Linked DNA regions of Homo sapiens: region 1 is linked to region 2. Evidence: fine-mapped expression QTL. A gene starts in region 2. The other region holds a variant in brackets. All regions are shown on one strand. Distances are between the middles of the regions. Region 1 overlaps VAPB (VAMP associated protein B and C). Region 2 holds the start of VAPB (VAMP associated protein B and C).

Region 1 (11,335 bases), 48 kb before region 2:
CCTTCATACACTCATCTCAAATATTTTCTACTTAATGCATAGATTTCTCATTGAAGAAGCAACATTCTTTTTCATACATATAAAGATATTTGACCATATTCCCCACCCTCCCCTTGTCCCCAAACTACATGGAAATGTAAGAAATGAAAAATTTTTTCTTCCTTCACCTCCACTGCCACAACTGCCTTGCACTTTCCTAAGAATCTGCAAGTTACTATGTAGATCTATGATGCCATTTCCATGCTCTCAAAGCCAAGCCCACATCCCTGAAGAGGGACATGCATCAAGCCATTCTATTCTGGCACAGACTCATCTTTGCTGATAGATCTCTTGCTAATTACCTCATCTCCTCATCCTTAAACCCCACACACCAGCTGTACTTTCTTTTCTTCGTTTCCTTCCATTCGCTCCCATCCGCCCGAGTACCTAGTAGGTCCTGGGGACCACAGGCAGATGAGTCCCATGGAGCTGACTCTCCCTGCAATTTGTTGCTATCTCTGTGGGACATTGATCACACTGGCTTGTAATCACTTCTGTCTATGTCTCTCCCTGCTATCCCAACAACAGAGAGCTCCTCAAGGGCAGGGGCTGTTCGTGTTTGAATCCACAGTGCCGGGCACATATTAGACCCTCAGTAAATTTGTTGGCCAGATGACAGAATAAACCAACACAAAACAAGAAGGCAGTGTTTGGCAGGATAAAGAATCTTCTAATGTTGAGATTGGTCTGATCATATTTTAAGGATATTCTGCTCATGGGGCATGGCCCGTATCACTGCACAGTGATAAACAACTGGTGGTGTCCGACTGGCTTAAAAAAAAACCCGGCAAACTAAACCATTTATTTTATTAGGTTATATAGAAGCTATTTCTACCTATTTACCACTTTAAATAGCACAGAACTCTGTTTCAGAAGAGAAATACACTCGAGAAGCTTCAGGCATAGCTTAGATTTTTAGCCAAAAAGTAGTGTCAGCTTCACAATTTACTACACACTAAAGAAATTACTGACTGAGGCAAATCAAAATCACTGCAAAGGAAGAAGATGATGCCATTTCCCAAATGCTGTCAGTTCTCCTATATCTACCTCACTGTCAGAGTAAAAGAGAAGAAAACTCATACTTTTAAAGCTGGAAGGGGCCTTAGAGGTGTTTAGCAAACAGAGGCCTAAGAGATGCTGTGACCAGCACAGATTCAGAGCTGTTTCATATTGGATGGGAGCAACTTCCACACCACCACAAGCCAAAAGAAGCACCCCCTGCCTCCCCACTTCATCACTCAGTACAATACAACCTTCCATTGCCAATGCCAACTGCCTCATCCAGAAGCTAGAAGCTCAGATTTTCCTTCCATAATCTCCACCTCCTACCCACTGTGAGGCACCCCACCTCCAAGCTCATCACCACATCAATAGTTTGATGAGCCACAACTGCCCAGACCTATTTAGAGTCTTCTAAAATCAGAACTATACTTGCATTAAAACAGAGTATAGGTCAGTATTCACTCTCTGAAAAAAGATTCTCACCCAAGTGGTTTAAAAATGCATATTCAAAATAAAAACTATTTTGGTCTCAACATTTATTTTCAATTTACAATAATGGAGAGTTTGAGTTGTTTGGGGTTTTGTTTATTTTGTTTTTGAGACGAAGTCTAGCTCTGTCACCCAGGCTGGAGGGCAGTGGCACGATCTCAGCTCACTGCAACCTCCGCCTCCTGGGTTCAAGCGATTCTCCTGCCTCAGCCTCCCGAGTGGCTGGAATTACAGGCACCTGCCACCACACCCAACTAATTTTTTGTATTTTTTATTAGAGACGGGGTTTCACTTTGTTGGCCAGGCTGGTCTTGAACGCTTGACCTTGTGATCGGCCCGCCTTGGCCTCCCAAAGTGCTGGGATTACAGGCGTGAGCCACCGCACCCGGCCAAGTTTTTTGTTTTTGTTTTTTTTTTTAAGGGGACAAGAGCTTCAACAGTTGAGAAATTTCTGATCAAGGGACAGTGGTTCTTAATTTAGGCAGATCCAAGGACCCTTTTGAGACTCTCATGAAAGCCATGGAAATTTCTCCCTGGGGAGAAAAAAATAGCCAAATACCAAAAGCAAAAAGAAATCTATATATTCACTGGCTCATCAACTTCCCCACCCAAGAAGCTAGTGAAAACGCCCTTGTTTTCTGTAGATTACCAGAAAATAAACTATTACCTTGAACTGCTTGTTCTCCTCCCGTAGCCTCTGAACTTCACCTTGCAGCCTCTTACATTCTTCCATAACCTTCTTAACTTCGGTGTCATCCAAAGAAGAACTCAGAGACTTAGACACTATTGGTGTTTCTGTCTTTGATGCAGTTGTGGATATAATTTTATTTATTTCTACATCATGCTGTTCAAAAACAAATGAAAGCCTAAGTGTCACCGACCATGTAATAATGGACTTTTTTATGCAAAGTAAAGTAGTTCTCAGCAAACACCAAACGTGGTAGCATTTCATCCACACTGTAAAATGTCACATTTATTTTAAAAATGGATTACTTTATCTGATATCTTAATAATCTAAAGCAACAGGGCCCTAGAAATTATGGATAAGGGCAAATAATGAAGTTCGGCTGAGACTAATACTTCAAAGAAAGAGAAAAAGGGCTGTGTATATTGCACTATCAAATTCCTGCCACGGAAAAATCAGCATACTGTAATTGTGCAAGCTCAGGAATTATTAGCCACAAATTACTGTCACCACAAAGATGTGAACATCCCTAGGATTGCCTTAGTGGGGTTAGGAGGCTTGGGAGAGCATTAGACAGAGGGCGAATTACTTTACCAACTTAGCATTTGGAAGCTGGGATGAAGGTGAAACAAACTCAGTGTCTGCAATGTTTCAATCTTGGGAAGTTACATACTCCCCTTATTTCCCCTGCCAAGATTCAGCTATGATCCCCTCTTGAGATTTACAGGGGATGAGAGCCAGTCAGTGGAGGGAGGGCATGGAAGCACGCAGCTTGTCAGGGAAAGAGTAACTGACGATCATTGGCCTGGAATCTAGCTCTACCCATCATTTTCCAGATGAGAAGAGTAGGCCCTGTGAAGCAAGGCCCCAGGCTACCAAGTCAACCTATCACAGAGCTGAGGCCAGAATACTGCTTTCACAGCTTCCAAACTGACCTTCCTGTGACAGGATGTACACTGGGAAGAGGGAAAAAATGACCACTATCCACTTAAAGAAACAGGGTAATGATAGTGGTAAATGATTCAGCAGAAATAAAATCTCAGGTAGTTTTGACACAAATCAACAGCACTCGCGCAGACCAACATAGATACTGTTAACACAACATTTCAGGGTACTTCTGTTTCCCAACTCCAGCTATTAATGGCTAGGATAGTTTCACATGCTGCATGCTTTCACAGTTTTGGTGTTTTTATAAAAATTAAAATGTTTTCGACTAGGTTGAAGGGAAGTCCAAATTAGCATTTCAGATACAGTCTCCTTTCTTCAACTGGTCACAAGTGAGGATCATGAAAGGTAAAGCGCTCACAGTGGACAGCCTAGAGGATGGGGCTCCTTCCTTCTCCCCACAGGCAACACCGGAATGGGATCACTCTCAATGGGGGTTGATATTGCCCTCCAGGACACATGTGGCAATATCTGGAGACATTTTTAGTTGTCACAACTGGGAAGTACTACCAGTATCAAGAGGGCAGAAGCCAGGGATGCTGCTATTAATAAAACACCCTACAGTACACAGGGCAACCTCCACCACCACCAAGGATTTGCCCCAAATATCAACAGTGTTGAGGCTGAGAAATCCTCATCTAAAAGCAGCCTTTGATTGAAGAGGTAGATAGGGTAAAAGGGGTAGGGAGGCTGACAGGGCACTTTGTAAAACAAGAGAACTTGAAAGCTTCCCACACGTCCATCAACCACCATGATAAAGGGCAAATTGTTCCCTCTTTCACTCTCACCCACTGTTTAACAGCAACCTATACCTTTGCCAGGCCACAGAAGCTCTTCAGGATTTATGACATCTCAATGGCCATCGGGCTGCACTTTTCAAGGGGAAACACTGTCAATCAGTTGTCTTTCCGTGAGTTTTTCAAAGGCTGATTTCATAAAGGCCCACTTATTTGCTGACTTCAGCTTATTTTTTTTCTTCAGACATCAGATAAAGGAAAATAATTTGCCAACTTAAATCTTGGTTTTGCAGGAAATGGTATGCAAATAAGTATCAGCTTACAACATTCAATTATTGTTAACTATAAATATACTTACTGGTTTATCATTCTCTGCTGGCAATTCAAACACACATCTAAGTTTTGAATCCATAAGGTCTTCCGGTTTTGCCTCCTTCCACTAAAACAATTTAAATTTAATAATCAAGATATTATAAACCTGCTGGAAGAATAACTTTCTTCCTATAACTGACAATTTCAGAAAAATACTCTTAATGAGAAAGCCCTGATGTATATCAAATAAAGAACTGAAGTCTGCTGAGATTTCAATATTTGTAACATGACAAGATTAAATACACTCACTTTCTCAAAATATTACACTTCATAAACCCTGAAGTCTTGCTGCCTGACTCCTCAAAGTCAACCAATGCTCCCCATGTTGCTACTCTGTGGGACAGGCCCACCACTGAACAAAAAGGAATCCTCTAAACAATGTCTGGATGACCAGGTAACCTTGGCTCTCCTTATGAAAATAAAACTTGTTTTCAGCTGGGCATGGTGGCTTATGCCTGTAATCCCAGCACTTTGGGAGGCTGAGGTGGAGGGACTGGTTGAGCCCAGCAGTTTGAGACCAGTCTGCACAACGTAAGGAGACGTCATCTCTACAAAAAAATTAAAAAATTAGCTAAGCATGGAGGCACATGCCTGTGGTCCCAGCTACTCAGGAGGCTGAGGAGGGAGGATCACTTGGGCCCAGGAGGTGGAGGCTGCAGTGAGCCATGATCATGCCACTGTACTCCAGGCTGGGGGACACTGAGAGACTCTGTCTCAAAAATAATAAATTAAATTAAAATGAGAAAATGAAACTTATTTTAAAGGCATATCTAGAAAGTATAAGCGCATACTATCTGGGACTAGTTTCAGAACCACTCTGCCAACTACCAACGGAACACATTCATTACCAAATCCCTCCTCTGTCACTGTGGCAGTGTGTGGGCTGTGTCTACCCCAAGACCCATCTCCATCCCTCCAGGCTGTAGTGAGAGCACCTTCCTAGCTAAATCCCATGTCCTAAGAGGATACGCTCCTGATTACTTCTCCTTTTGGCAGCAGAAGATGGGAATTCCAGGGTATTCTAGGATTACAGACCAGGATAGCAGCAAGGTTATGATATAGAAAAAGAAGGCACCCCCACCCTCCATGCCCTCAACCCTTCCCAAAACCATGCAAGAGGCAGCTA[C/G]TGTAACACAGGTACCAAGAACCAAAAGTGGGAAGCAATCTATACATCTGACCCTAGGGGACTGCCACAAAAATTATGGCAGATCCACTAAACGGAACAGCATGCTGCCACTCAAATGATGCTGAAGAGCACTCAGTTAGATGGAGAAAATGTCCAGAATGTTAAGTGAAAAAATCGCAAAGAATACTGAAGTCTGCTCCTCTGCACACACACACCTGTACACGTGTGCCTACCACATAAGTCAAAAAAAATATCAAGCAAGGATCATCACTGAATGCTAAAAGCACCAGGTGAAAGACTGCTGGCGAGCAGGATATTCACATGGTCTCAAAGTATCAGATGACTCAGAGTATCACAGATTACCTATTAACCACAGGGGCAAATGTGCTTTGTGCTATGACAGTGGAGAGAGCTGGCAGTCACCATCTTAACCAAGTGATCAAACAGCATCACCAACAGCGGAACAACCTGGTATGAAATACCAACTATGGAATATTCTTGCCAAAACACATTTAACTTGAATTTAATCATGAGGAAATAATCAAATAAATCCAGAATACAGGACATTCTGTAAGTCAACTGGCCTGGACTCTTAAAAAAAAAAAGAAGTTCAAAGTTTGGGCAGGGTGCAGTGGCTCACACCTGTAATCCCAGCACTTCGAGAGGCAGAGGCAGGAGGATCACTTGAGCCCAGAAGTTCAAGACCAGCCTGGGCAACATAGTGAGACCCCAACTCTATAAAAAAATAAAAAAATAGCCGGCATGGTGGCATGCCTGTAGTTTTAGTTACTCGAACAGCTGAGGTGGAGGTCAAGCCATGACTGCACCACTGCACTTCAGCCTTGGTGACAAAGCAAGACTTTGTCTCAAAAAAAAAAAAAAAAAAAAAAAAAGTTCAAAGTTTGAAAAACAAAAAGGTTTGGGTGTCCTCTACTAAAGGTCACTTTTGGAACAACTAGGAAATAATGAATATGAATTTATCACATAATAATACTGAATTGAAGTTACTTTTTTCAGCTATGATTAATAGTATCATGACTATATAAGAGACTGTCCTTGCTCTGAAGCATTTAGGGGTGAAGTGTCATAAATTTGCATCTCAAGCAAATAAGAAAGTTTGTGACAGAAAGGAAGCAAATGTCACAACATGTTAACAAATGTAAATCTAGGTAAAAGTTATATGAGTGGTCACCATGCTATTTTTTCAACTTTCTGTATATCACAATAAAAAGAAAAACATTTTAAAATAAAGAAAAAGCAGGCTGGGGCAGTGGCTCATGCCTGTAATCCTACCACTTTGGGAGGCTGAGGTGGGCAGATCGCTTGAGTCCAGGAGTTTGAGACCAGCTTGGGCAACATGGAGAAAACCTGTCTCTACAAAAAAATTAGCCAGGCATGGTGGTGCGCTCCTGTGGTCCCAGCTACTTGGGAGGCTGAGGTGGGAGGATCACTTGAGCCCAGGAGGTGGAGGCTGCAGCGAGCTGAGATCACTCCACTGCATTCCAGCCTAGGTGACACAGTAAAATCATGTCTCCAAAAAAAAAAAAAAAAAAAAAAAGGAAGAAAAACACAAAGCTCTCATTTCTCATTAATGATGGTTAGGCCTAGTAGAAAAGAACTATGGGTCACTTTAAATTTTTTTCATTTGTGTATTTCCAAAATTTCCCACAATGTACATTTTATATAAAAAAAATTTAAACTTATATCATCATACAAGGAACTAAAATGACCCTTTACTAGATATGCAGTGACTGGCCTATTACACACTCTGATAAGCAAGTGTCAGACACTGGACCCACCAGGCACTTACACAGGCACACTTCATACTCACCACTGTGTGAGCTGCATTTTTATCCCTATTTTACAAATGATCAAAACCTCAACAGAGTTAATAAAACCTGCTCCCAGCCACAACGTCAGTAAAAGGAAGAACTCAGCTCGAAAACACCCAAGCCCATGCTCTTTTCACTATGCCATGCAGCAGAAGCCAAACAGAACACACCCTTGGATCTTCCATTATTTTCTATCTGCCATGTTTCTTTGATCACACAAATTAACATGAAGTAACACATCATGTTGCAGAAAATCAGAGAAAGTTTTCATAAGAATTGTTCTTATGAAAAGAAGACAGCCTATTATCACTGATCTCTCTAAAAGTCAAAAATATCTGGCCTCCTCCTTCATTTTCTGCCTACAAGTGAAACATCAGCGGAGATGCTTCTCCAGAACTTAAACAAAAGGCTATGTGGTGACATAGGGCATGGGGTGGTCTTGGCCTGAGTTGCCCTTGGTATGAAACTCAGACAGAGGAGAACTGCAGTATGGTGTGATGAACAGCGGACTCAGGTGGGCAGACCTGCCGTGGATGACTCGGGGCTCCCCTTTGGGCGGGCCAAAACTGGAGAGCAATGCAAGTGGTATGAGGCAACCCTGTCCTGCTTTCCTGAACTGTAAGGACAAGCGCATCTGTCCCTGCTGGGGCTGTGGGTTGTATTGTAGATTTCAATTCAACTCCCAGCCCCAGAATGCCAATGGACTTATTCAAATGTATAAAAAGCTCGTTTTGGAGGGAATGTCCATTATACTCTTTTTTTTTTTTCCAAAACCATCACTAACATCACTTATTTCTTTTATAAAAATGAAGTCATCTTAATTTTATCAAAATTAGAGAAAAGTTAAACATAGATTTAAGCAGGGGGGAAAATAAATAAGCATATTTACTAGAACAAAGCCACAAACATGTATGTCTAAATGGGTGAGGACATTCAGCACTGACACTCTCACATGGCTCTTGAGTTTGTGGGGGATGAGAAGACAAGTAAGAAAAAGGCGGGACAATGAAAAGTATCCTTTTCTGTCGGGGCAGAAAGGAGAGGCGAAAGAAGGCAATCCCTAACCATGCAAGACACCATCCACCAGTGCAAGGAGCTGCTGAAGCACACTGAGCTCAGGAAAGTCAGAAAAGAACAGCCTTCTAGAAAGTCACAAAAAATGTTAAAATTATTCCTCAAAGTTTTAGAAAAACCATAAAGGTAGATAAAGTACAAACCTCCTTGAAAAAAAACTATTCCCTTTTAAATAATTTTGACATATTTTGAAATGCATGCACCCACAATTCCATATCTAATTGGTTTTTTAAATTATTGTTACTGAAAAAAATAAGAAGCATTCAGTACTTACTACTGCTTCCATATCTGAAGTGTCAGTTGGAGCAAACATAGACTGAACCATAAACTTGTGTTTACTTTTCTCATTGGGATCATAATCGAAAGGCTGTAACATCACTGAGAAAGAAAATATTTCATTAGGAGGGTCAGAGCTTGGTTGTCAGTGCCATTTATTATGCTAATACTTGTACTTTGGTTGTAAAGCAATTTACCGGCATTCTCTTATGTCTTAGGATGGACGCCCCTGGTGAAGTAAGCAAGGATGACCAACATCTCCATTTTGCAGGTCACCAACCTAAGAGCCACAAAATCACGCATGACAGAGCTGGGAATAAGGCCGAGGACCCAGTCTTCTGATTCCTAGTCCATGGATCTTTCACTACTGCAAGCCTACCGTAAATGTCTGCTACAGGCCTTACAGAATTGGGAAACTGGGTAGCAACACCATCTGCCTGTTTTGCTCAAGAAAACATATCCAAATGATCTCTTCAGGAATTAAATAGAATAATCTAAGATGTTTAAGAACATTTAAGGAACTGTTGTAGCTTCTCTCCAACCCATTTCTCATATAGCTAATCAAGGTAATCCTTGAAATACAATTTTGCCAACATAAAGCTAGAAAATTTTTACAATCAGGACACTCACACAGCAGGGAAAACGGTATCAGCTTATACTCCCCCTTTTTTTTCCCTAAGAACCTAGAGAAATCTCACACAGAGGATCCTGTGGATGAGTCACACCCACTGCATGGAGGGAGGTGCCTTCCTACCCCAAGTGGCTCCCTTCAGCCTACTTCCTAGAGTACAGCTGGGCCTACTCCTATCAAATGATGGCTGCTTTAAAATATGTTACTTTGCTACAAGGCTTTGGCTAACCCACACATCTAGTTAAGTTCCCTGAGACAACTTCACATGCAGGGAAAGCCTACTGTGGCCTTGACCACAACAGTGGGCATGGACTGAGTATCTCCATGTGCCAGAAACTGGGCTCTGTCCCTTAGGTTTACCATCATCTCATTTAATCCTTAAAAAGTAGGTACTATTGTTGGGGGAGAGGGGCTATTCTGGTGTCTACTTTTCACATGAAAAGAATGAACACAGAGAGGTGAATTTGCCCAAGGTTACACCTTGGTGGAGTGCAGACTCAAACCCAGGCAGTTGGTGTGGGGACCTAAGTTCACAGCCACCACAAAGGACTGGTGCCTTGTCCTCTGACAGTACAAGTCTTATGCTTCTCACCAGCAGGGCTTCTACCACCTTTCTGCTGGGCCCTCATCAGCATTCTCTTGCCTTGAAACCCCAACTTAGGACTTCCCAGGTGCTTCCTCTAGAGCCACACAATCAACCACAGCCAGCAGCAGATAGAAAGCAGGATAGCCGTGGTCTACAAATGAAGAATCTGGGATTCCACAAAGTGAAGTGGCTCCCTCAAAGTCACAATGTTAAGAAGTGGCAACACTGGGACAAAGAGCCAAGACTTGACTACAAGTGCAGTCTAGCACCCCTTTCACCACACTAGTCACTCCAATATGAGCTAGATTTATATCTGGCACCCAGGCCCCACGACAAAGCTAATGGAACCATTCACAAAACAGGATAGAAATACCAACCTCCCCCATCCATCTTAGGGATGCAGTAGCACTCTTCACCATGGGAACAGAGAAAGTCCACTGAGACCTAACCATGCATTGGACTTAAATGCACTGGTGTCCCTAGTCACCCAGACAGCTTCACTGCCCACAAGACCCACCTGAAGGCCCTGAGCTACAAGGAAGCCTTGCTGGGAGACTTCTTCAGGACAAAATTCAATAACTGTCAGAGAGTAAACCTTTTATCAACATAACTCTTTCTCTGGCATCACTGAGCTGGCAAGAGCTGACCTTTCCTACAGACAGACCTGGAACATTTACCGACCTGGGCTTGACACTTAACCTCAGGGACAAATGACCAGACTGGCAGGTCAATGCTTTTTCTGAAAGCCAAATTCCCAATGTGTTTTTTTCCTGCCCCTAAGATTGCAATAACGAAAACACACATTTTAAAGTAAAGAGCCAATGTCTTTACATGCTCTGTGAACCTTCCTGGACAGGGACTGTCAACCTTCTTTGGAGCTGGGATTCACTGTTAGATTAATGTTCCCTTTCTAAAATTAAAGTGAATTCAGTTTTAAGAATTTCAGGTCTTCCTTGGCTGTGACAAAATCATGCTCTGGTATTTTTCAGTTTAGGAAAGAAGAGAACTTTGACCTGAACTACTCTTAGATTTTTGGCAGGGCACAGATCTAGTAGTAAACACCGTCTTACCCTTGAGACTCTGTTCTCCCAGCTGTGAACAGCTATTGCACCACTCCCAAGTCTACCACTCTGGAGAGCTCTGAGGAGGAACAAGGTTTATTTGTAAAGATCCCTGATGCTCACATGACAGCAATCCAAGGAAAATGCTAATTTTTAGAGAAGCTATTTAGATGAAATACAAAAACCAATGGGTCCAGAGAACAGAACACACCCCCAAAAAACAGCCCCAGGAAGCTCTGCCTGCCCCTTCCCATTCATCACCTTCCTAGAGGCAGTGGGAGTAAAAAAGTACAGCCAAGAGCACTGTGTCCAGAGCTCTGCCTGGGTTCTAAGAATGCCCCAAGGGAAAACAGGTCCTTCCTTTCCATTTCTCCATCATCCCTCAGCTTCTTCATCCCCAATACTTTCATGATGGCCCAAGAAGGAAAGAAAGGAAAAGAATCTTTACTCATGCCTCCTGTGTAATAGGTACCATAGAAG
Region 2 (11,335 bases):
TGGATGAAAAGCTCCCAGGTAATTATGAAGATAACAGTGATCTATGTCACAACCACTCACGTTAAGGAAACATCATTGCTTTACAAACATAAGCACATGGTCAAGAACTATACATTTTTTCCCCTAAGGAGTTAACTGTGAAGAAAAAGGAGTGAATAGGTGGATAAAAGAAAGTTAACTTCCAGTCCACATTTTTCTCCCAGGAACAAGATTTCAGAAGTAAATGGTACTATCTATGAAGATTTACGTTTGACTCAAGTTTAGTAAGTTTAATGCCGCTTTTGATAAGCAAGCTACTTAATAATTAAATAAATGAAGATAATCTATTCAGGGTGGATCTAAACCACTACCACGAAGAATCTTCAGCACATGGCTGACGCTCTGTTGTGCTGTAAAGCACAGTCTGCTCCACGTGATCATGAAGTGTTAAGAAAATCAGTGCCATGCTAAAGCTAAAGAATTAATGCTGTACTTGGCATCTGAAAGATAATTACTGCACTGAATGAACTATATCCACAGGGCTTTAGATTTTTTAACTTCCTAAACAATCTTAAATTACACATCAACTTGAAGGGCTGAACTAAAGAGTCTAAGCCAACTTTTCCCATACAAAAAACAAAACAAAACAAACAACGTCCTTAAACTATCATTTAGAGTGTCCAAGTTTCTATTTTCTCCCAAAAGTGGTACTCAACTACACTGATTCATTGGTGCCCTCCCATCTGAGATCCCTACTAATGGCAGGACTATCTAAGACTTCTTGAAGGTCATTGGTTCAGTCAAGCAATAAAGCAAAAGTAAATGCATCCACAGTTATGTTTAAACCTTAACCGGCTGGGTGCAGTGGCGCACACCTATCATCCCAGCACTTTGGGAGGCCGAGGTGGGTGGATCACCTGAGGTCGGGAGTTCGAGACCAGCCTGACCAACAGGGAGAAACCCTGTCTCTATTGAAAGTACAAAATTAGCCGGGCATGGTGGCGCATGCCTGTAATCCCAGCTACTCGGGAGGCTGAGGCAGGAGAAGTGCTTGAACCCGGGAGGCGGAGGTTGCGGTGAGCCAAGATCGCGCCATTGCACTCCAGCCTGAGCAACAAGAGCCAAACTCCATCTCAAAAAAAACAAAACAAAACAAAACAAAACAAAACAAACCTTAACCTAGTGAGGATGGATGTTCAACAGACCATTTCCATGTGACAGTATCATTGCTGGGGGAATGGGCTAGGATGTAAGGAATGATCTAGAGTCCTGAACGACCAAAAAATATATGACATACTATTTACCACAGATGGACTCTCATGGAAGGGGAGGGAGAAGGGAATGAAAGAAGAGTGCTATATAATGCCTTGAAAGTGACTCATTCGGAAAGCTCTCTTTGAGCTGGACAACAAGTGGGATCTCAGAGTGAGGAGATGGCAAGGAAACGATTAGGACTTGGAAGAACTGAGATCAACAGAAAGAGTGACAATTTTAAAAAACTCCTATGACTTAGTGAAAAAGACAAAAAGAAATATAAAAGAAAACACACACTTAGGCTGCATGCAGTGGCTCATGCCTGTAATCCCAGCACTTTGGAAGGCTGAGGCGGGAGGACTGCTTGAGGCCAGGAATTCAAGACCAGCCTGGGCAACATGGCAAGACTCTATCTTTACAAAAAAATTTAAAAATTAGCCAGGAATGGTGGCATCTGTAGTCCTAGCTACCAGGGAACCTAAAGCAGGAGGATCTCTTGAGCCCAGGAGTTTGAGGCTACAGTGAGCTATGATGGCACCACTGCCCTCCAGCCTGGGTGACAGAGCAAGACCCTGCCAAAAAACAAAAACATTTACTCTCTCAGAAAGATACCCCTAGTCTGAAAGAGCTTAATGTTCACTTACTAAAAATATCTCATGAAAGTCAACCTTAAGTCTAGGCAAATCCTCCTGTGTCATGCTTCTTTCAGGAAGCCACCAGGCTTTCTCCTTTTGATATTTATGATGCAGCATAGTACTTCCTATAAAACTGCATAAAGTCATATAAATTTGCATTCTTTTTCTTCTGTAACATCCTTAAATTTAACATACCACACAAAATTCCCAAGATTAAAGAGTCTGACAATATACAATCCCATACGATCAACTTAGGCTGCATTTAAAAGATAATTTTTCCTTTGAATGGGCATTTTAGTTATTACCTTCTCAAGTAAAGTTAGCTCAGAGGTTCATCTAGGTGAACGACCAGAAATCAGAGTCGTCACCCTGAGTAACCTGGAAGAAACCAGTTAAATGTGCCATTTCTCATCCTGAAATGAATTATCTCTAAGTCAGGGTATTCAGTCTCTATTAATTGTACTGTCTTAGCATTCAGTTTAAAACAAACAAACAACACACCTCATGACGTCATTTAAGAACACACACAGATGTCTCTTCTAAAGTTATGAGCCAGAGGCCTTCAACAATTTGGTACCACTTCTCTTGGACCACTTCCCTAGCAAAAATATCCAGTGACTTTGGCATAATTACTTTGGCCAATCCAGGGCCAGAATGATCGCTATTCTCTGCCACACCTTTCAGGTACAGAAGTGATGAAACCACTTAAGTAGTTAAGTGGTTGTCTAATCTCTGTATAGTACTATGCACTTACAAAGCCACTAACAGCCATGTCATTCCTTCTAAACACGTTCTACAAGAGGCAACGTGGACACGAGCATCATCCCCATTGACCGAATAACCACCCCAGGCTTTGAGGAGTGAAGTGGCCTAAGGTCACACATCTTTCAGTAAAACAATTGAACAAAATCTTAAATTTTCTCAAATGAGTGCCTCTTTCCATAACATATTAGACAACAGAGTTTGTACTGGGATTTGGGGGTTTTCAGAAAGTTAATGCAAGGAAGGACTGCTCAAGGAGAAGCAACACAATTTTAACTTGGACACTGGCTGCATCTATGCATAAAGGGACTGAGATCTGACTCTTGTCTACTCACCAGCCTTGTCTCCCATCTTGCCAGGCAACCACAACAAATGTTCTTTGTTGCTGTCATTCAGAACCACTAGTGGTGGCCGGGCTCACGCCTGTAATCCCAGCACTTTGAGAGGCCAAGGAGGGCGGATCACTTGAGGTCCGGAGTTTGAGACCAGCCTGGCCAACATAGTGAAACACCGTCTCTACTAAAAATACAAAATTTAGCCAGGCGTAGTGGCACATGCCTGTATGTAATCCCAGCTACTCAAGAGGCTGAGGCAGGAGAATCACTTGAACCTGGGAGGCAGAGGCTGCAGTGAGATGGCGCCTCTGCACTCCAGCCTGGGTGACAGAGTGAGAACTCTATCTCAAAAAAAAAAAAACTACTAGTGGCATCCCAAAGGAGCCCAGTCATCTCAGTGTTTGTGCCTCTGTGCATGCAATTTCCTCTGTCTGAAATGTTCCCCACCCTTTCCTTCTTTGAGCCTTCTTCTACTCGACCTTTATAACTGAGCTCAAATGACACCTCTTTCAGGAGTTGACCTCCTCAATGCTCCTGGAGCACTCTGGACTACCCTACATCATTGTCCTGTCCTGGCTGTTATTCTCATCTGCCCCCTTCCCTAAAGTACTGGGAGGAGGTTGAGGGAAAATAGGAGAGTACAGCTGATATAACTTGGCTTCTCTGGGTATCTGACACACAGATCAGGTACTCAGTAAATGTTTGTGGACTAACCGAATGAACCCACCAATTATCAGGAGAAGCCAAGCCAGGCCTCCCAGATAGAGAAAGAACTTCAGACAACTCAAGTGGAAACTAAGGCTCACTATTTTCACTTTAGCTACCTGGACTTCTTTCCCAATCTGGCATCCCCAGAAGGCCATGAGAACATCATGAAAGCTCAAGTACTATCCTGGAATTACAATCCACGGTAGGTTTGGTGGGGTTTTTCGGTTTTTTCATTTTAATTGGAAAGCCTTTGGTTCTCTGTAAATTCAGAGTTATTTCACATTGTTAACTTGGAAGGCAAAGTGACAGCCACCGTTCTGGAGTATTTCCCAGCGATCAGACAGCAAAACGGTTAAGAGCGTGAACTCTGAAGTCTGGGTTCAAATGTACCATTTGCCAACTGGGTAACTTTGGGTAAGTTACCCTACACTACTTCCCAATAGGACATATAAACTGGAGAGCCTCTGGCCATTCATTCATTCATAAATACCAACTGAGCATCTACTGTGAGTCCGGTGCTAGCGATATAGTGGAGACCCGGCCTTCCAATCTAAAGTACGCTTCCATGGAGTCAGACTGTTCCATTTCCTACACAGCACTTAGCACTATCTGCAATGATCTTGTGTGTTGGTTTGTCTGTCCTCGTCGGAAGGTAAGCTCTGTGAGAGCAGAGGCCTTATCTGTCTTGTGCATCCATCACCTCCCCAGAGCCTCCCACATCACTGGATACACGCAAAAAGAAAGAATGAGCATGTCAGACAAGAACTTTTACCTCGTGGCCCTGGTGAAGGTAGGAAAAAAAAAAAAAAAACAAAAGTAACAACATAGAAAACATAAAGGCACAAATTACAGAGGTAATAGTATCTGGGAGAAACCAGGGTCATGGCTTCCCATCGCCGCAGGTGTTGCTCCAGACAGCTCTGCGGAGAAAAAGGATCCCAGCACCGTGGCAGCCTCCTTGCACCGCAACCAGGAGACAGCATGAGGGACGCAGTGAAAGGAAAATGGGCCCAATCCCATCAGAAGTCCTGAGGAGGTTCATTTGTTGGTTCAACATGTTCATCTGTTGGTTCAACAGGTATTTATTTACTAGGCGTATAATGTGTGCTGGGTACACAGCAGCGAACTGACAAGAGCCTGTCCTCATGCAGTTTCCCTTCTAGTATTGAAACAGTGATTTTGGGTATGAAAAGTGCCGTGCTGACCACGAAACAGTGACGGAATAGGGAATGACAGCAGGTGTGCACGGTGGCTGGGTGGTCACAGCAGGCCTCTCTGAGCAGCTGACACCTCAACTAAGCCCTGAGGTCAACACTGTCACGGAGCAGGGGAAGAAACTTCTAGGCAAAGGCAGCGGCGGAGGCTCACACTAGAGAGGATCACAAACTGGTAAGTTACAAAGTGACAAGTGCCTCGAAGGCAAGTCCCAGGAGGCTGGGGGTCGGGGAGGAGGCGCAGGCCCCGGCTCCCGCACCAGCCCTCTCGGGTCCCGGCCACTCCGGGCAGTTCTGGGGAGCGCGGCGAGCGCCAAGGCCCGGCCCGGCCTCGCCGCCCCCCGCGACAGCGCCGTCGGGGTGGGGACGAGGGCCGACGTCACCCGCCGCGCCGGGCTCCGTCCTTCCAGCACTGGGGCGGAGGCCGCGGGCAGGAAGGTGGCGGCCTCTGGGGCTTACCTCGGAATTTGAGCTCGTGCTGCGGCTCGAGGCTCAGGACCTGCTCCACCTTCGCCATGTTCCTTAGCGGCGGAGCACCTTTGGCGGGGAGACCCCTGAGAGGTCACCGGGGCGGGAAGCGTTAATGCTGCGCCCGCTTTAAGTTTTACAAAAAGGCGGGGACCGGTCGGGGCACGGGCGGGGGTCCTCTACCGGGTGGGCGCGCTGGGGGGGGGTCGGTCTACGCGGTGCAGGCGCAGGGGCGGAGGGCGAGGGCGAGGCCGCGGTGCCCGGCGAGCTGACGGCACGCACGCACGCACGCACGCACGCAGAGTCGTACACACGCACGCACGCAGCAGGCTGGCCCGCTCTGGCGGCGGGAAGCTGCGCCCTGCGCCGCCGGCTCCAGGGGCGGGGACTAAAGCTGCGCGCGTAGAGCCCCTTCCGGGACAGTGCGCAGGCGCGGCACAAGCCACGGGGGCGGGACTGCGGGGCAGTAAGGGGCGGGGCTTCGGGCCGCTCAGGAGGCGGGGTCTGTAGTCCAGCTACGACAGCCACCGCGGAAACTATTAAGGGCCCGCTGGGGGCCAGCTTCGTGTTAAGTGCTTTATTCAATAATAACAATTAGAATAAACTTCCACTTTTCTCTTGCTTATGTAGTGCCAGGCACTGTTAGAGACTTTGAATAATAGTGAAAGTACTTAGTATAAGTATAATGTTTATGGGTGAGTGATATGGGCTAGGCACTGTGACGTCTTGTAAATAATAATTATAAATATAATAAACTACCAATTATTGCTTATTTATTTTGTATCACTCTACTGAATGCTTCCAATAACAACAGCAACTACAATAAATACAAGCTACTCTACGTTAAATGTTTACTATGCAACTGGCACTGTGCTGAATTCTTTACTAGTAAATTCTATTTGTTTATGCAACAAATATTTAGAAATACAATGATCAGAAAAGCGAACCTGATTCCAATCCTTTTACTATAGCCTAGTGAAGAGACATCTTTTGAATAAATAACCACACACGTAAGTTAAATAATTAAAAATTGCTGGAGAATCCAGATCTGCTTGACCTCAAAAGTGGATACTCTACATCATGATTACCGTTTAAATTGTATTTCATTATATTATGTTTACTATGGAAGTTAAATAGGTGTTCTTAATAGTCTCCTATACATACCCATATAGGTGAGACAAATGTGGCAAATTGCTAGCAATGGCTGACTCTACATCGCAGGTATATGGTTTTCTTGTACTGTTTCTCCCACTTTGCTGTATACTTGAAATTTTTCATGATAAAAAGGTTTTTTAAAAGAATAGTCTTTGTATTTTAACTGGAGCATTTAGTCCATTTACATTTATTATATTTACTGATATATCTGGAATTATTTCTACCATTGTATTTTGTTATTTCTATTTGTCCTGCCTGGTTTTTTTCCCCTTTCCTTTCTTCTTTAGGGTTTATTTTTATTCTCATTCTGATTTTCTTCACCTGTATACTCTATTTCTAAGTTTTAGTGGTTACTTCAAACTTTTGGGCATGCATACTTACCTTGTGAAAGTCCAATATCTTTAAATATTTGTAAAAATGTCTTTACCCTGTTTCCTTAAAATATAAAGACTTTGGAGTACTTTAATCACCCATCCTCTAAATTATACACCTTAATGTAGTGTATGTTAAGTTTAACCTTTGCCACTGTAACCCCAAGAGACATTACTAAATTGTTTTATTCAGTCAACATTAGTTTAGATTCAGCCACACAATTACCATTTTTATCCACCTTTTCTTCTTGCATCTCAGCTTTCACCAACAGGATCACTCTCCTTTTGCCTGAGGTAAATCCTTTAAATTTTATTTTTTTGTAGCTTCGTTGGTGCAAATCCTCTCAGTTTCTGCTCATCTGCAAATGGATTCATTTTTGCCTTTTGTTGTTTTTATTTTATTTATTTATTTATTTGGAGATGAGGTCTTGCTCTGTTGCCCATGCTGGAGTGCAGTGGCATGATCGTGGCTCACTGCAACCTGTATCTCCCAGGCTGAAACAATCCTCCCACCTCAGACTCCGGTGTAGCTGGGACTAAAAGCATGCACCACCACGCCCAGCTAATTTTTTTATTTTCTGTAAAATCTCACTATGTTGCCCAGGCTGGTTTCAAACTCCTGGGCTCAAGTGATCCTCCTGCTTCAGCCGCCAAAGTGCTAGGATTACAGGCATGAGCCACTGCGCCTGGCCTTGCCCTTGTTCTTGACAGATATTTTGGCTTGCTTGCTTGAATGACAGCTGTCCTCTCTCAGCACACTTGATTGCCATCCACTGTTTGCCTGTTCCCCCTCATTGCTCCTCAGGAGTCCAGTGACAATCTTAACATCGTTCCTTCATAGGTTGTTGGTCTTTTCTCCCTCTTCTCATGTTCTACAGTTTTACCATGCTGTATCTTTTTTTTTTTTTTTTTTTGAGACGGAGTCTCGCTCTGTCCCCCAGTCTGGAGTGCAGTGACGCCATCTCAGCTCACTGCAACCTCCGCCTCCCATGTTCAAGCGATTCTCCTGCCTCAGCCTCCTGAGTCGCTGGGATTACAGGCACGCACCACCATGCCCAGCTAATTTTTGTGTTTTCAGTAGAGACAGAGTTTTGCCATGTTGGCCAGATGGTCTCAAACTCCTGACCTCAGGTAATCCACCCACCTCGACCTCCCAAAAAGTTGGGATTACAGGCGTGAGCCACCATGCCCAGCTCATGCTGTTATCTTTTTATTTATCCTGCCTTGAGTTCTTTGGGCTTTCTGAATTTGATGATTGGTGTCTTTCATTATTCTTGAAAACTCTCAGACAATACTTTTTTTTTTTCAATTTAATTTTACTTTTTTATTGTGGTAAGATACACATCACATAAAATTTACTCTCTATCATTTTTAAGTATCCAGTGGTATTAACAAGATTCCTATTGTGGTGCGACCTCACCATCATCCATCTCTAGAGCTCCCTTCATCTTGCAAAACTAGAACTCTGTACCCCTTAAGCAATCATTCCCCATGCTCCCTCTCCTAAGCCCCTGGCAACCATCATTCCACATCCTGCCTCTGTGAATTTGACTAGTCTAGGTACTTTTTGTAAGCAGAATCATACAATACTTGTCGTTTTGTGACTGGCTTATTTTGCCCAGCATAAAGTCCCCAAAGTTCATCCGTGTTGTATCATACGTGACAATATCTCTGTTAAATGTTATCTTGGATGGACACAGTGGTTCATGCCTGTAGTCTCAGCAATTTAGGAGGTCAAGGCGGGCAGACTGCTTGAATCCAGGAGTTCAAGACCAGCTTGGGCAACATGGTAAAACCCCATCTCCACAAAAAATACAAAAAAAAAAAAAAAAAAATTAGCCACGCATGGTGGTGCATGCCTGTAATCCCAGTTACTCAGGAGGCTGAGGTGGGAGGACTTGAGCCCAGGAGGTGGAGGCTGCAGTGAACCATTATACCATTGCACTCCAGCCTGGGGTAACAGAGTGAGATCCTGTCTCAAAAAAAGAAGAAATAAAAATAAATGTTATCTCAACCTCGTTCTCTCACTCTTTACATCTTGTAGTGTGATTAGTAGTTATTCAACTAATATTTTTCAAACTGTAGGTTGTTTTCCAACAGTGGCTTATAAAATCAATGTAGTAGATTGTTACCAGTGTTGAGAAAGAACGAGAATATAATATATTGGAGTGTATTGTATTATTTCATGAATCTTTTGTTTCAGTTGTATTTATTAATATACACATATCTATGGAGTGAGTCACAACTAAAATACATTTATTACTGTGGATTGTGAAAGAAAAAGAGAAAAGTCTTGTGCCCTTCTCCATGTCTATTAACCTCTCTATCACATCTTAATCTGTCCTCTTTATGTTCCACGTTCTGGATAGTTCTTCAGATCTTTCTTCTAGTCACTAATTATCTCTTAGGCTATTGATAAACCTGTTTCAGGAGTTTTTCATTTTGTTTATTTTTTTTTAAGCCTATAAGTTCTATTTTGTTCTTTTACATATCCAAGTAGTTATAGGTTGTGTTTTTTCTTTTTTTTTAATTATTATTTGAGACAAGGTCTCCCTCTGTTGCCCAGGCTGGAGTTTAGTGGTGTAATGTTGGCTCACTGCAGCCTCTACCTCATGGGCTCAAGCCATCCTCCCACCTCAGCCTCCCGAGTAGCTGAAACTACAGGTAGGCACCACCACACCCGGCTAATGTTTGAAAGTTTTGTAGAGATGGGATTTCACCACATTACCCAGGCTGGTCTCGAGCTCCTGAGTTTATGCAATCCGCTCGTCTCAGCCTCCCAAAGTGCTGAGATTAATGGCATGAGCCACTGTGCCTGGCCACATTTATAGGTTTTTTAACACTGGTTCCCAGCTCCTCTGCCCTCCCCCAGGGAATGGTGCCATAACAAAGCTTTAGTGTTGGTCTCTTCTGCCGGGTCACTTTGGTAAGGGGAAGCCCATGTTCCTAAGCCCATACAGAGCCTCCACACCTGCCACCATGGCCACTGCATAAATAAGCTCATTGAGCACGCAATGGCACAGCTGTGGGAAAGACTGACTGTTGTCTGCAGAATGTGCCCTCTTGTCCACTCAATTAATAGAGTTGCTGCTGCAGTAGATGTCTTTGAGTGGGCATTCACATGAGACACCAGTGTCTTTTTTTTTTTAATTTAGAGGCGGAGTCTTGCTCTGTTGCCCAGGCTGGAGTGCAGTGGCACGAACTCGGCTCACTGCAACCTCCACCTCCTGGGTTCAAGCAATTCTCCTGCCTCAGCCTCCCAAGTAGCTGGGATTACAGACGCCCACCACCACGCCCGGCTATTTTTTGTATTTTTAGTAGAGACGGGGTTTTACCATGTTGGCCAGGATGGTCTCGAACTCCTGACCTCATGATTCACCCGCCTTGGCCTCCCAAAGTGCTGGGATTACAGGCATGAGCCACAGCGCTTGGCCGAGACACCAGTGTCTTCACACCCATCCTGAGAGGTATCTAGTACCTCCTCCCAGACCTCCTCACCACACATCCACATCTGCTCTCTCCGTCCCTGATCATCCATTACCCAGGGGCCCGTGCACCTCTGTGCTCTTGGTCATTTCTCAGCCACACAAAGTACACAGCCAAACACACTGCTTGAGATTCTGCTAAATGTGTGAATTCCATTTATGTTGTAATCCTGCAGCCCACCCAATTAAAGTTTGAGTATAATTTTCAGCAAGGTCAAAAATCTACAGCTAGGCCAGGTGCGATAGCTCACGCCTGTAATCCCAGCACTTGGGGAGGCTGAGGCGGGTGTATCACTTGAGGTCAGGGGTTTAGGACCAACCTGGCCAACATAGTGAAACCCCGTCTCTACTAGAAATACAAAAAATTAGCTGGGCGTAGTGGGAGCTGCCTGTAATCCCAGCTACTTGGGAGACTGAGGCAGGAGAACTGCTTGAATCCGGGAGGCGGAGGTTGCAGTAAGCCGAGATCATGCCATTGCACACCAGCCTGGGCAACAAGAGCAAAACTCCATCTCAAAAAAAAAAAAAAATCTACAACTACAAGAAATAAAGGATTATTTTAGGGCTCTGTAGAATCTCTCTGGTTCTCTGTGAGTTAAGCTGAGAGTTTAAAGATTGGAGCGTGTCCTTTACTTTCCATAATAGCTCCAGTGAACTCAGAAATAGCTATCTCACCCCATGGTCCTGAAGTCATCACTACCATGTAAGTGTGGCAGTCCCATGGCTCTCCATGCCCTTACTTCAGTGGGAACATTGTCACAATCAAATGATATTAGTAGTGATGTCAGTATGAGCCATTGATTACTTGTAATCACTGGTGTGTAATAAACTGGCTCTCTTGGGGAGAAATAATATCTGTAGTTTTTGCAGATTCCTTTTATTTCCTTTTCTTTGTTTTTTTGTTTGGTTGGTTGGTTGATTTCTTTTTTTTTTTTTTTTTTGAGACAGGGTCACACTCTGTCACCCAGG

What was found. PIP is the estimated chance that this variant, and not a neighbour inherited with it, causes the effect.
Region 1: its variant is fine-mapped to the expression of VAPB in blood mononuclear cells (TOPMed, PIP 0.95).

The regions. Positions count from the first base shown.
Region 1 is chr20:58,431,946-58,443,280 of GRCh38, reverse strand. VAPB (VAMP associated protein B and C) reads right to left here. Exons shown (of 6, transcript NM_004738.5): 3 at 8,576-8,679; 4 at 4,256-4,336; 5 at 2,198-2,374. Among named protein-coding and RNA genes, the nearest start is that of VAPB, 48 kb to the right of the region's middle. The variant C/G (reference allele first, on the strand shown) is at 5,396.
Region 2 is chr20:58,383,529-58,394,863 of GRCh38, reverse strand. VAPB (VAMP associated protein B and C) reads right to left here and starts at 5,635. Exons shown (of 6, transcript NM_004738.5): 1 at 5,347-5,635. The coding sequence starts at 5,404. RefSeq lists silencers at 5,107-5,226, 5,487-5,926.